Homo sapiens: one gene and its partners. The protein of the gene in region 2 interacts with the protein of the main gene of each other region in a pairwise test. Each region holds a gene or a part of one and is shown on either strand. Other genes may lie near its edges.

Evidence for each region.
Region 1: the proteins of BPIFA1 (region 2) and PPIH interact in binary tests that used the Homo sapiens proteins (3 or more experiments, as listed by UniProt).
Region 3: the proteins of BPIFA1 (region 2) and TIAL1 interact in binary tests that used the Homo sapiens proteins (3 or more experiments, as listed by UniProt).

The regions. Positions count from the first base shown.
Region 1 is NC_000001.11:42,671,888-42,675,539, reverse strand, and holds part of PPIH (peptidyl-prolyl cis-trans isomerase H), read right to left. Parts: intron 253-3,652; exon of another isoform or gene 92-252; intron 1-91. UniProt on the Homo sapiens protein: PPIase that catalyzes the cis-trans isomerization of proline imidic peptide bonds in oligopeptides and may therefore assist protein folding. Participates in pre-mRNA splicing.
Region 2 is NC_000020.11:33,234,473-33,238,224, forward strand, and holds the start of BPIFA1 (BPI fold-containing family A member 1 precursor), read left to right. Parts: upstream 1-1,523; 5' UTR 1,524-1,578; intron 1,579-3,224; 5' UTR 3,225-3,239; coding exon 3,240-3,399; intron 3,400-3,582; coding exon 3,583-3,742; intron 3,743-3,752.
Region 3 is NC_000010.11:119,576,406-119,580,057, forward strand, and holds part of TIAL1 (nucleolysin TIAR), read right to left. Parts: intron 3,606-3,652; coding exon 3,530-3,605; intron 2,430-3,529; coding exon 2,321-2,429; intron 1,332-2,320; coding exon 1,236-1,331; intron 1,131-1,235; coding exon 1,046-1,130; intron 799-1,045; coding exon 675-798; exon of another isoform or gene 501-674; coding exon of another isoform or gene 483-500; exon of another isoform or gene 346-482; coding exon 206-345; intron 1-205. UniProt on the Homo sapiens protein: RNA-binding protein involved in alternative pre-RNA splicing and in cytoplasmic stress granules formation. Shows a preference for uridine-rich RNAs.

The DNA of each region.
Region 1 (3,652 bases), on a different chromosome or scaffold from region 2:
CCAGGACCTAAGCTCTGTCATACCAGGCACTATGTTAGTCAGCATGATCCTTGCTTCAACAAGTTCTCAGTCCAGAGAAAAACAGACTTACATATTTGTGATACAGTATATTAAATGCCACAGTGGAGAGATGAACCAAGTGCTGTGGGAGCACCCACTGTCTGGGCTTAGACCTGGAAGAGGAGGTGGAGGGATCAGCAATGGATTCACACCTGATGTTAGCCACAGCTGTGGGCAGGCTCCTGGGAAGTGCTGGGAGGATTTAGGATTAGTTAACACTACATATAAACAGTATGTATTTCTATTACAAGATACATGTTCAAGGTAGAAAATTCAAGCTTAAATAAGGCAACTGAAAAGTCTCTTTGCTATCTCTACTCTGCAGAAGTATTATCCACAGTCTGCTATATATCACTGCAGAGATTCCTGAAAGTCATTCAAAATAAACAGTAACATGCTTACATAAATTACTACATCTTGACTGTCACTTAACTTACCTTAGAAATCTTGCCAACACATCCAGATCTACCTCTTTATTTTGTTAAGGCTGTATAGTATTCCACTGAAGAGAATGGAACCTCTACGTGTGTAAGACTTGGCTGCAATGCAAGCAGCTTTGCCTTTGTACTGGACTGGAATGGACTGGAGCCAGACATTCTCTCCACTCCTGGCCTTTTCAGCTGGCAGAGCTTCTGAGTTTCAGGACAGGGAACATACAGTGTCACATGCCCAGCAGGCACATAAATATTTGCTGCCAAATCTCCAGTGTTCCCCAGACCCATATTTTCATGTAAAACCTCTTTTCTCTTGCCTGGACTACTACTGCAGTAGACTCCTCACTGGCCTCCAGCCCATCCTCCACAATGCTGCTAGAATCATCTTCTGAACATGAAAATTCATCTACAGTATTCTGCTGAAAATCCTTAAGTGGTTCATATTGGCCTGATTCTTTTTTGGAGGGTCAGTGCCCCTTTTGAGAATCTCAGGAGCACAGTGGACTCCTTCCCCAAAAGGGAAAAATTACTTCATGCCTGAAAGTCAGCCTCTGCCCTCAGAATAACATATGAACTGCTAAACTTGGCACTGGCTTTCACTACTGGCCCTGGCCTCTCTCCAACCTTCTCACCATTTGCTTTTCATATCTTCCTGCTTCAGTCATATTGAATTATTTGCAGCTTCCTCTACACTTCCTGCTGTTTCCTGCCTTTGTGACTTTGCATAGGCTGTTCCCTCTGCCTGGAATGCCCTGCCCAGTTTTAGCCACCTGACAAGTTATATTCTTTCTTGTACTAAACTGAAGCATCATCTCTTCTGTAGTCTACTCAACCACTCTGGGAAGATCCGGGCATTTATGCTTTCCTCACCTTGTTCTAAAACCTCCAATACAGGGCTTTATTGTACTGTAATTGTCAGTTCTCCCAAGAGACTGAGTTCCTTGAAGGATGGAACTGACTTTTCAAATCTGTAGCCTCATATGCAGCATGGGAACTATCTTAATTCATCAGCGCTTAGTTGTGGAATGAATAGAGGACCAGCCCAACTGCCACCAACACATATTTCCTAATCTTCCCCTACGGGAATGTCTCGCATCTATAGGTAATTCTAGAATGAAACACAGTGTTTCCTAAACCTTAGTCATTCAAATAGCATCTTCACAACTGTTACAATATCTATCATCCACAGGTACAATTTATTTTTTAAGCTAATCACTATTTGAACTTCAATATTGCCTCACTATAAGCTGTAATAACTGTAAAATGATGTATTGTGCTAATTCCGTATTTTTTCCTAAGATCCAAATATTAAAATAAAAGACAGTCATCCCACCACTAACTAAAGTAGTGTTTCCCACACTTCTCTATTAAGAAGCATGTGAGATACTTGTTACAAACATAACATCCTGGTCCCACCCCAAAGCCACTCAATCAAATACTCCAGGGAAGGGATCTAGGAATTCGTAGGTTTAACGAGTGCCCCAAAATGATTATTACCTGTTGGAGAATCTAGGCAACAATGAATTAAGGAAAGCTCTCTACCATTTGGTACTGGTACCAGGTTTGAGGATCACAGGGAAGAGGGTAAGCATATCAGACTAGCAGAGCTGCCAGAACTCGGGCTTTCAAAAGAGAGGTGCCACCCTCTCCCATGTCCATGTAAGTAGCAAACAACCCATTCAGACTACAGCAGGAGAATCCTGAGTGTAGAGGTTCATTTATGCTATACATAACCAAATTCATCATAAAAAGTTTTCCAAGGGCTGGGCACGGTGGTTCATGCCTGTAATTCCAGCACTTTGGGAGGCTGAGGTGGGAAGATCGCTTGAAGCCAGGAGTTTGAGACCGGCCTGGACAACATGGTGAAACCCCATCTCTAAAAAGTTAGCTGGGTGTGGTGCTGCACGCCTATAATCCCACCTACTAAGGAGGCTGAGGTGGGAGGAACACTTGAGCCAGGGAGGTCGAGGCTGCAGTGAGCTGTGACTGCGCCACTGCACTCCAGCCTGGGTGACAGAGTAAGACCCTGTCTAAAAAAAAAAACTCTCCCAGAACTCACTGAGATAAAACCAAGGTTTCTATAACTAAAGTTGTACAGACCAGGCATGGTGGCTCACGCCTGTAATCCCAGTACTTTGGGAAGTCAAGGCGGGCAGATCACATGAGATCAGGAGTTTGAGACGAGCCTGGCTAACTTGGTGAAACCCTGTCTCTACTAAAAATACAAAAAAATTAGCCAGACGTGGTGGAGCATGCCTGTGATCCCTGCTATTCGGGAGGCTGAGGCATGAGAATCGCTTGAACCTGGGAGGCGGAGGTTGCAGTGAGCTGAGATCGTGCCACTGCACTCCAGCCTGGGCAACGGAGTGAGATTCTGTCTTAAAAAAAAAAAAAATTGTACACAAAACTTCATTTTCACTAAAACCAAAGTCAGAACCTAGGAAGGCAAAACACAAAGGTTCTGGAAAGAAGTGCTCCATAGGGAGGTAGAATTGATCAAGTGACCCGTCTTCTATCTCCTTCTTAGCTGTTTCACTGCATATGTCCAGTGCCTGGGCACAAGGCCTCAAATGCAGGATTAGGTGATACCTTGATGTGAATGCAATGGATTCCTGCTGGACTAGTGCCACCAAGAGAGTACTTCCTCTTGGTCTTTTTTTTTTTGGAATATGGCAAGTTCTCAATTAAAAGATAGACTCTTATCCCCTATTGACTTGCCTCACAGTCTGCATCAGCATCACCTGAGAGCTGATTAGAAATGCAAAATCTCAGTCCCCATCCAAACCCACTGAGTCAGAACCACTATTTTATAACAAATCTCCTGGAGATCCGTATGAACGTTAAAGTATAAGAAATACTGCCCGGCCAGGCATGGTGGCTTATGCCTGTAATCCCAGCACTTTGGGAGTCCGAGGCGGATGGATCATGAGGTCAGGAGTTTGAGACCAGCCTGGCCAAGATGGTGAAACCCTGTCTCTACTAAAAAATACAAAAATTAGCTGGGTGCGGTGGTGGGCACCTGTAATCCCAGCTACTCGGGAGGCTGAGGCAGGAGAATTGCTTGAACCTGGGAGGCAGAGTCTGCAGTGAGCCGAGATCGCGCCACTGCACTCTAGCCTGGGCGACAGAGCAAGACTCCGTCTCGAAAAAAAAAAAAA
Region 2 (3,752 bases):
TCCTTCTCTCTCCACTTTTGCTTATAAGGTGTTAGGTTTTGCAGGGTAAGAGCTGCGCTCACTGGTCCAGGACCTTGGCCTTCCTGTGTCTTCACTTTTTCATCTGCTGAACAGACTCCAAGGGCCCCAGTGGTGGGGATAAATAAATGCCTGATTACTCCATTTAGGGAAAGGTAGAAGAAAGGGTAGGATAGAGACCAGGATGCCAAAGGATCCCTCAGGCCTGGGAACCTGGAAAGACTTTTCCAGGACCTAAAAGAGAAGCGGCGGGGCACTGTGGCTCACGCCTGTAATCCCAGCACTTTGGGAGGCTGAGATAGGTGGATCACCTGAGGTCAGGAGTTCGAGGACAGCCTGGCCAACATGGTGAAACCCCATCTCTACTAAAAATACAAAAACTTTGCCAGGCATGGTGGCGCTCGCCTGTAGTCCCAGCTGCTCAGGAGGCTGAGGCAGGAGAATCACTTGAACCCGGGAGGTGGAGGTTGTCATGAGCTGAGATCACACCACTGCACTCTAGCCTGGGCGACAGAGTAAGACTGTCTCAAAAAATAAAATAAAATAAAAATTAAGTGAAAATTTAAAAAATAAAAAGGGACGCATGAAAGTGTAAAGTTCACAGGTGGGGAAATCAAAATGGCCAGCAAGTGTTGGGAGGCACCTTCATCTCTCAGTGCAGTGATTCGGGGAAAGGACCTGAATGTGGATGTCTCACCCCAGGCAAGCACTGCATCTCTGGACAACTTGCCTCACACTCAGCCTCAGTTTCCCCCTTATAGAATAGGAGTACAGGGTTGTGAGGATTTTGTGAGATGCTGCCTGTGAACACCATGGCAGGCCAGGCATACAGCAGGAGCTCGGCCAGTGTCTGCTGTTGGCGTTGTTTTTGTTGTTTTCATTCTCCAGTCAGTTGCATTCTAACTCTGCTGCATCCTCTCTGGGTCTTTCAGCACTTGTCCCCACTGGATCTCAGTTTCCTCCTCTATAAAAGAGGAGGAGTCACCTCTCCCTCTCAGGGTTCTTGTGAGGACAGAGAGCTCCTGACGTGCAATAGGGGCTCTGAAAACAGGAGACCCTTGCCCTGGAATGGAGACGCACCCCAGATGTAGGATGCAGTGTGACTCTTTTGACATTTTAGGAGAAAGAATCCTCCAACTGGAGCAAAAAAATTAGAGCAGGAGAGGAAAGGGGCCAAGAGATGAGACTGAGGTCCCTTCCTGGGCTCTGTCTGGCTGCTCCTTTCAATGCTCCAAGCTACCTTGGGAGCGTGGGTCCCCAACCTTGGCTCCGCTCAGGAAACCATAAAGTCTTGAGTAACATCCCATCTCAGGTTTTTCTCTGTTTATCTTGTTGACCAAATAGCTTAACTGTCTCACCTGCTAATGTGATTGGCAATTATTTACTTTGGAGAGCCCTGAAAGACACTGTCAGATTGCAGAATTCTCAATTATCTAGAAACCCATCACCCAACACATGCTTCCTCGTCCCCATACTATAAAAGAGGCTGACTCCTCGGCAGAAGTGAGTGGGGGAGAGAGAGGAGACCAGGACAGCTGCTGAGACCTCTAAGAAGTCCAGGTAAGAGCCATCCATTCTGTGGCCCCTCTGCTACCCTTAACGGCAGGGATCTCAGGCTCCTGCCCTGTGGGGCAGTGAGTGATCTTGATCACTCACTGGGGGCTGTGCAAGAGAAACAGACCTGGCCAATGTCAGGGATGTGGGGATGGCCATTTGCTCTGCTGTCCTAAGAGACCAGTAACATTGATATAGAAATGGGCACTATTAATGCCGTAAATGAAAGCCTCTAAGGCATAAGTTTTAGCTTGAGGTTACCAATGTGGATACAGATGATCCAAAAACCTCCTAAAATTCTTCACCCAATTTTATACATTTTGATGCATTTTTTCTGAGACTAGGATCTTTAGCTTCCATTGGATTCATAAAGGGTCTGTTGCCCAAAAGAGATTCAGAGGCTGTGGTCAAAGTTACCTCCCTAAGAAGGGCACAACTGGCTCTTTGGACCAAAGACCTTTCATTTCCAGCCTTCCACCACAAGGATGGAGCTTTAGCTGAGTCAGCCAATAGATGGAATTTTGCACAAAGTCACCAGTTGTCTCCAAATTGTAGGTACTAGTGCTGGCTCTGGACAACTCTGCTGGCTGCCAAATAGACCTGTGAGAGGTCTGCAAGCCAAACCTCAGGGGTTGACCGGAATTCCATCCAGGGCAGCTTGAAGGAGAAGAGAAAGGTGTCAAAATGATAGAATGCATGTTTGTGTGTTGGGTGAGGGGAGGGTTGGGAGACCTGCCTTCAACCACAGCTCTGCCATCAATTTATTGTATGACCTTGGGAAAGTCACTACCCCTCTTTGGTCTCCTGGTTCTTCTCATGCAATGAAGACTTTGATGGCCCCAGGAATTCCCCAACAAAGGTCTACATGAGATGGTGGCTGTGGCCATGCGACCCCTGTATTGTGTGACTTTCAAGGGCATCCACCAACCATCATGGCCTGAGCTCAGGCCAAAGGACTGAACAGGGATGATCTAAAACAGTTCAATTCTTCAGCACTTGCACGTTTAACCCTTCTCATTTGCTTTGTCTGAAGAGCAGCAATGATTCAAACCATTGAAGCAAGCCCGATTGGAGAATAAATCTGATGGTTACTTAATTTAACCGAGGGTTCACCTGGCTCTAGCTTCTAATCCTCTGTCCACCGTGTACTTGTGACCTTGGGGAAAGTTACCCACACTCGGTAGTACACAAGTGGGTTTCAAGAAGGGATGGGAGTATATTTGAAACTCCCAACTGCAAACTCACTTGACCTCTGTGAGCCTTGGTTTCTCCTACTGGAAAATCAGACAAGTGAACTGTGGGCAAGATGGAGTGAGGTGAGGCTGGGATTCTTGGCAAGAAGGAAAAAAACCCTCTTCTTTGGAATGTGGTGGAGTGGGGCTGTCTCCTTTTTAGGCCCCTGATCAGTGGTCCTCACCTGTGCAATGCAGGTAACAGGTGCCCATGTCTTAGGGTTGTGATGAAGATGAAATTGTGTAAAGTGGTCAGCCTGTTGCCTGGCAAAGAGAAATTGTTCAGCAGTATTAGCTATTACTAGTGACCCCCTGGTGTTCTGGGGAGCAAACAACCCCACCCCCCAGGTGTCAGGGCAGGTGGTGGATAAATTCCTCTCTGATACCCATGCCATGTTGGACTTGTCATTCTGGCCACAGATACTAAGAGCAAAGATGTTTCAAACTGGGGGCCTCATTGTCTTCTACGGGCTGTTAGCCCAGACCATGGCCCAGTTTGGAGGCCTGCCCGTGCCCCTGGACCAGACCCTGCCCTTGAATGTGAATCCAGCCCTGCCCTTGAGTCCCACAGGTCTTGCAGGAAGCTTGACAAATGGTGAGTTTTCAGGGGTGTATGTGTGCATGTGTGTGTGTGTGTGTGTGTGTGTGTGTGTGTGTGTGTGTGTGTGTGTGTGTCCAACCCTGCAAAGTGGGGAGGGACAGGGCTGGATGGGGGAGGGGGCCTGAGGATCTGGAATTGTCAGATCTGACCCCCAGAGACCCTTACACCCATTTCCAGCCCTCAGCAATGGCCTGCTGTCTGGGGGCCTGTTGGGCATTCTGGAAAACCTTCCGCTCCTGGACATCCTGAAGCCTGGAGGAGGTACTTCTGGTGGCCTCCTTGGGGGACTGCTTGGAAAAGTGACGTCAGTGATTCCTGGCCTGAACAACATCATTGAGTGAGTTGTC
Region 3 (3,652 bases), on a different chromosome or scaffold from region 2:
ACCCCAATCCCCCCTTTCCACCTAGGTAATGAGAAGTAATTTCTTAGCCTCATAAATCATATTTTGTTAGATTAGTTTCTATAATGCTCATAATGCCAAATAGCTCAATGTATATAATTAAAATAGATTCTCCCTAGGAAAACACACTTTTATTTATTTTGTCAGAACCATACGTTTCTATACTGGAAAAACCCAAACAACTTACTCTACTCCAAATCCTTGTTGATTCCATGGTTGCCCGTATACTCCATAAGGCGGTACTTGCCACCCATTTGCCATATACTGTCCATACTGTTGTGGGTTTCCATACACTTGGCTCCATTGGCCCCATTGACTATAGTCAACCTAGGAAAAAGCAAAGTATTGTTTTAGGGAACACATAAGAAACACCGTATATGAAGAAAGAGTGGGAGACAAGGAAGAGAAAAACTAAGTAAGCACCCTTATGTGAATAGGACTCTGTTATTTATCATTGTCTAAGTTTATTGGGGTGGTGACACCTGTGAAAAGAAAGTATTAAGATTCAGTTAATACCGCAAATAATCAATTTTGAAATACAATCAACTGAAAGTAGCTATATGCTTTATTTTATTGTTCATTTTACAGAGTTTCCAAAGCTTTTATGTGACATGTAAGATGGAAACCTTAAAGAATGCTATGAAAAATCGAATTACCTGTTGGAAGTTTTTAGTCATATCAGGAGATTCTTTACCCCAATAGCATTTAACCACATGTCCTTCAATCGTAGTACCGTTCACCGAAACAATGGCATGGGCTGCACTTTCATGGGTTGAAAATCTAAGAAAGAAAAATGATATGGTTTTGTCTTTTATTTTTTAAGAACCTAACACAATAAATAACATGGAAACTCATCAGTTTACACCTGCAAGTTGGTATTTTTTTTCTAAAGTACATTAGGTAGGTAGCTTAAACTTCTATACTGCAAAGAAGCACTAAAATAACAAACACTGATACCCTGGAGAACATAAGTGAAAGGAATGAATCAAATATAAGAGTAATAATGATATTTCAAGTAGAGTGTTACCTGACAAATGAATAGCCCTTTTCTGGGAAAACTCTTATTTCCATAATTTGTCCAAATGGTGAGAATGTCTGTCTCATAAGCTGATCTATAAAACAAAACATACAAATAAAACATGGCTGATGTGTATCATGAAATTCATATGAACAGTGATGAAGCTCCTCAGAGGTGATTAGAAAACCAAACATTGTACCTGTTAACCCAGACGCAATTCCTCCACAGTACACAGTACAATTTTTTGGACTTGACTGGTTTACTACATCTTCAAATCTCAACTGCTTAGTGTTGTCTGTATGCAGAAACAAAACAAAAACGTTGACTGTTATATTGTACTATGAAACTCTTCTGTTAATTACTATATACTATTAAGATATGCCTCAGGCCGGGCACCCAGCACTTTGGGAGGCTGAGGTGGGCAGATCACCTGAGGTCAGGAGTTCGAGACCAGCCTGGCCAACATGACGAAATCCTGTCTCTACTAAAAATACAAAAATTAAGGCAGGGCACGGTGGCTCACGCCTGTAATCCCAGCACTTTGGGAGGCTGAGGCAGGTGGATCACGAGGTCACGAGTTCGAGACCAGCCTGACCAACACGGTGAAACCCTGTCTCTACTAAAAATACAAAAATTGGCTGGGTGTGGTGGCACACGCCTGTAATTCCAGCCACTCAGGAGGCTGAGGCAGGAGAATCGCTTGAACCTGCGAGGCGGAGGTTGCAGTGAACTGAGATCGCACCACTGTACTCCAGCCTGGGTGACAGAGCGAGACTCCACCTCAAAAAAAAAAAAAAAAAAAAAAAAAAGATATGCCTCAATGGGAGGAGAAAACATAATTTTTCTTGATGCTATGATTTGACACAGACTTGATCTATAAAATCAGGTGATTCACAGCTCCAAAAATACTTATACCACAGCCCAATTATTTTCAGATAATGAAATATAAAATGAAATAATTAGAGTCTTGCAACACTAATTAAATACTACGTCAGCCTGGACAACGTAACCAGACCCTGTCTCTATAAAAAAATTACAAATTAGCTGGGCATGGTGGCATGTCCCTGTAGTCTCAGTTACTCAGGAGGCTGAGGTGAAAGGATCACTTATACCCAGGAGTTTCAGGCTACAGTGAGCTAAGATCATGCCACCGCACTCCAGCCTGGGCAACAGAGCAAGACCCTGTCTCTTACATAAATAAATTAGAAATTGAGACTAGATGAATACATGATACATGATTTTGTGAAGAATATAATTTTAACACACACAGTGGACATATCTTACTTTCTTGTGTACTTTTAGGTGCAGGTGGTTTACGAGTGGCCCAATTGGTTCGGATTTGACGACCACCCAACCACTGACCGCCCATATGCACAATCGCATTTTCTGCATCCTATGGATAAAAAAGAAAGCACAATCACAAAGAAAAGAGTGATAAATAAGACTCTGTAAGATGAAATAAAATATCGGCGCTGCTGGTTCCATACAAATCAGTAGATGAATTTACTAAATATCCTAAACAAAACGAAACTGAACTATTACCAATTAGAAAACGATTTGAACTTGAGATTCAATCTAAGCAAAAACAGAATACTCTGGCCCTTTATCTTACCACTTCAATAAAATGTAGATGACCTGTAATCCCAGCACTTTGGGAGGCCAAGGCAGGAGGATCACTTGAGATCAGAAGTTTGAGACTAGCCTGGCGAACCCAAGTGAAACCATGTCTCTACCAAAAATATAAAAATGAGCTGGGTGTGGTGGCACATGCTTGTAATCCCAGCTACTCAGGAGGCTGAGGCAGCGCGATCGCTTGAACCCGGGAGGTGGAGGTTGCAGTGGGCTGAGATGGCACCACTGGACTCCAGCCTGGGCAACAGAGCGAGACTCTATCTCAAAAAAACAAAACAAAACAAAACAAAACATTGATTTAAGTTATTGAAACTGCTTTAAAATCAAAGCCCACTTTATTATTTAATGTTACAGTTAATGCAAATGCTTACTTTGGTACCCCTTTTACAAAGAATATATGCAAAAATCAAGATGAATTGCTTAAATTTTTATTTACATAATTTGTTGTAGTCATTCACATCCCAGTTATATAAGAGTATGAATAATAATTTAAAAGGTAGAGTTAAAACTGAGATTTTCATGGTTAAAACTGAATATAATTTACCTAACCTCTAAATTCTCAGATTAGCTCATCTGTCCTAGACTTGGGCTTTACTTCTAAATCCATCTGACCTTTACCAATGTACAAACACAATTTTAATAATCTTCCTTATAGTATAATCATTCTTTTTCTAGCTATTTATTTTCGAGTTTATGAAAGAGGAATGAAATTATACTCTATTATTAAAACATACATAACATTACATAAAAGTTGTGTTTGTAGTTAACATTCAAGTATATTCAAGTTTCAGATTCAATACATTAAGTAACTAATGACTAAATTTAGTATTAAAAAATATAAATTGAGATGGAAGAACGTACCAGTTTGTTATAAAAAGATACAAAACCATAGCCTTTGGATTTTCCAGTTGCCATGTCTTTAACTACCCGGGCATCCCTGTGAAAAGAAGCACAGCTAAATGAGGGAAGTAAGAGCCACCCTCA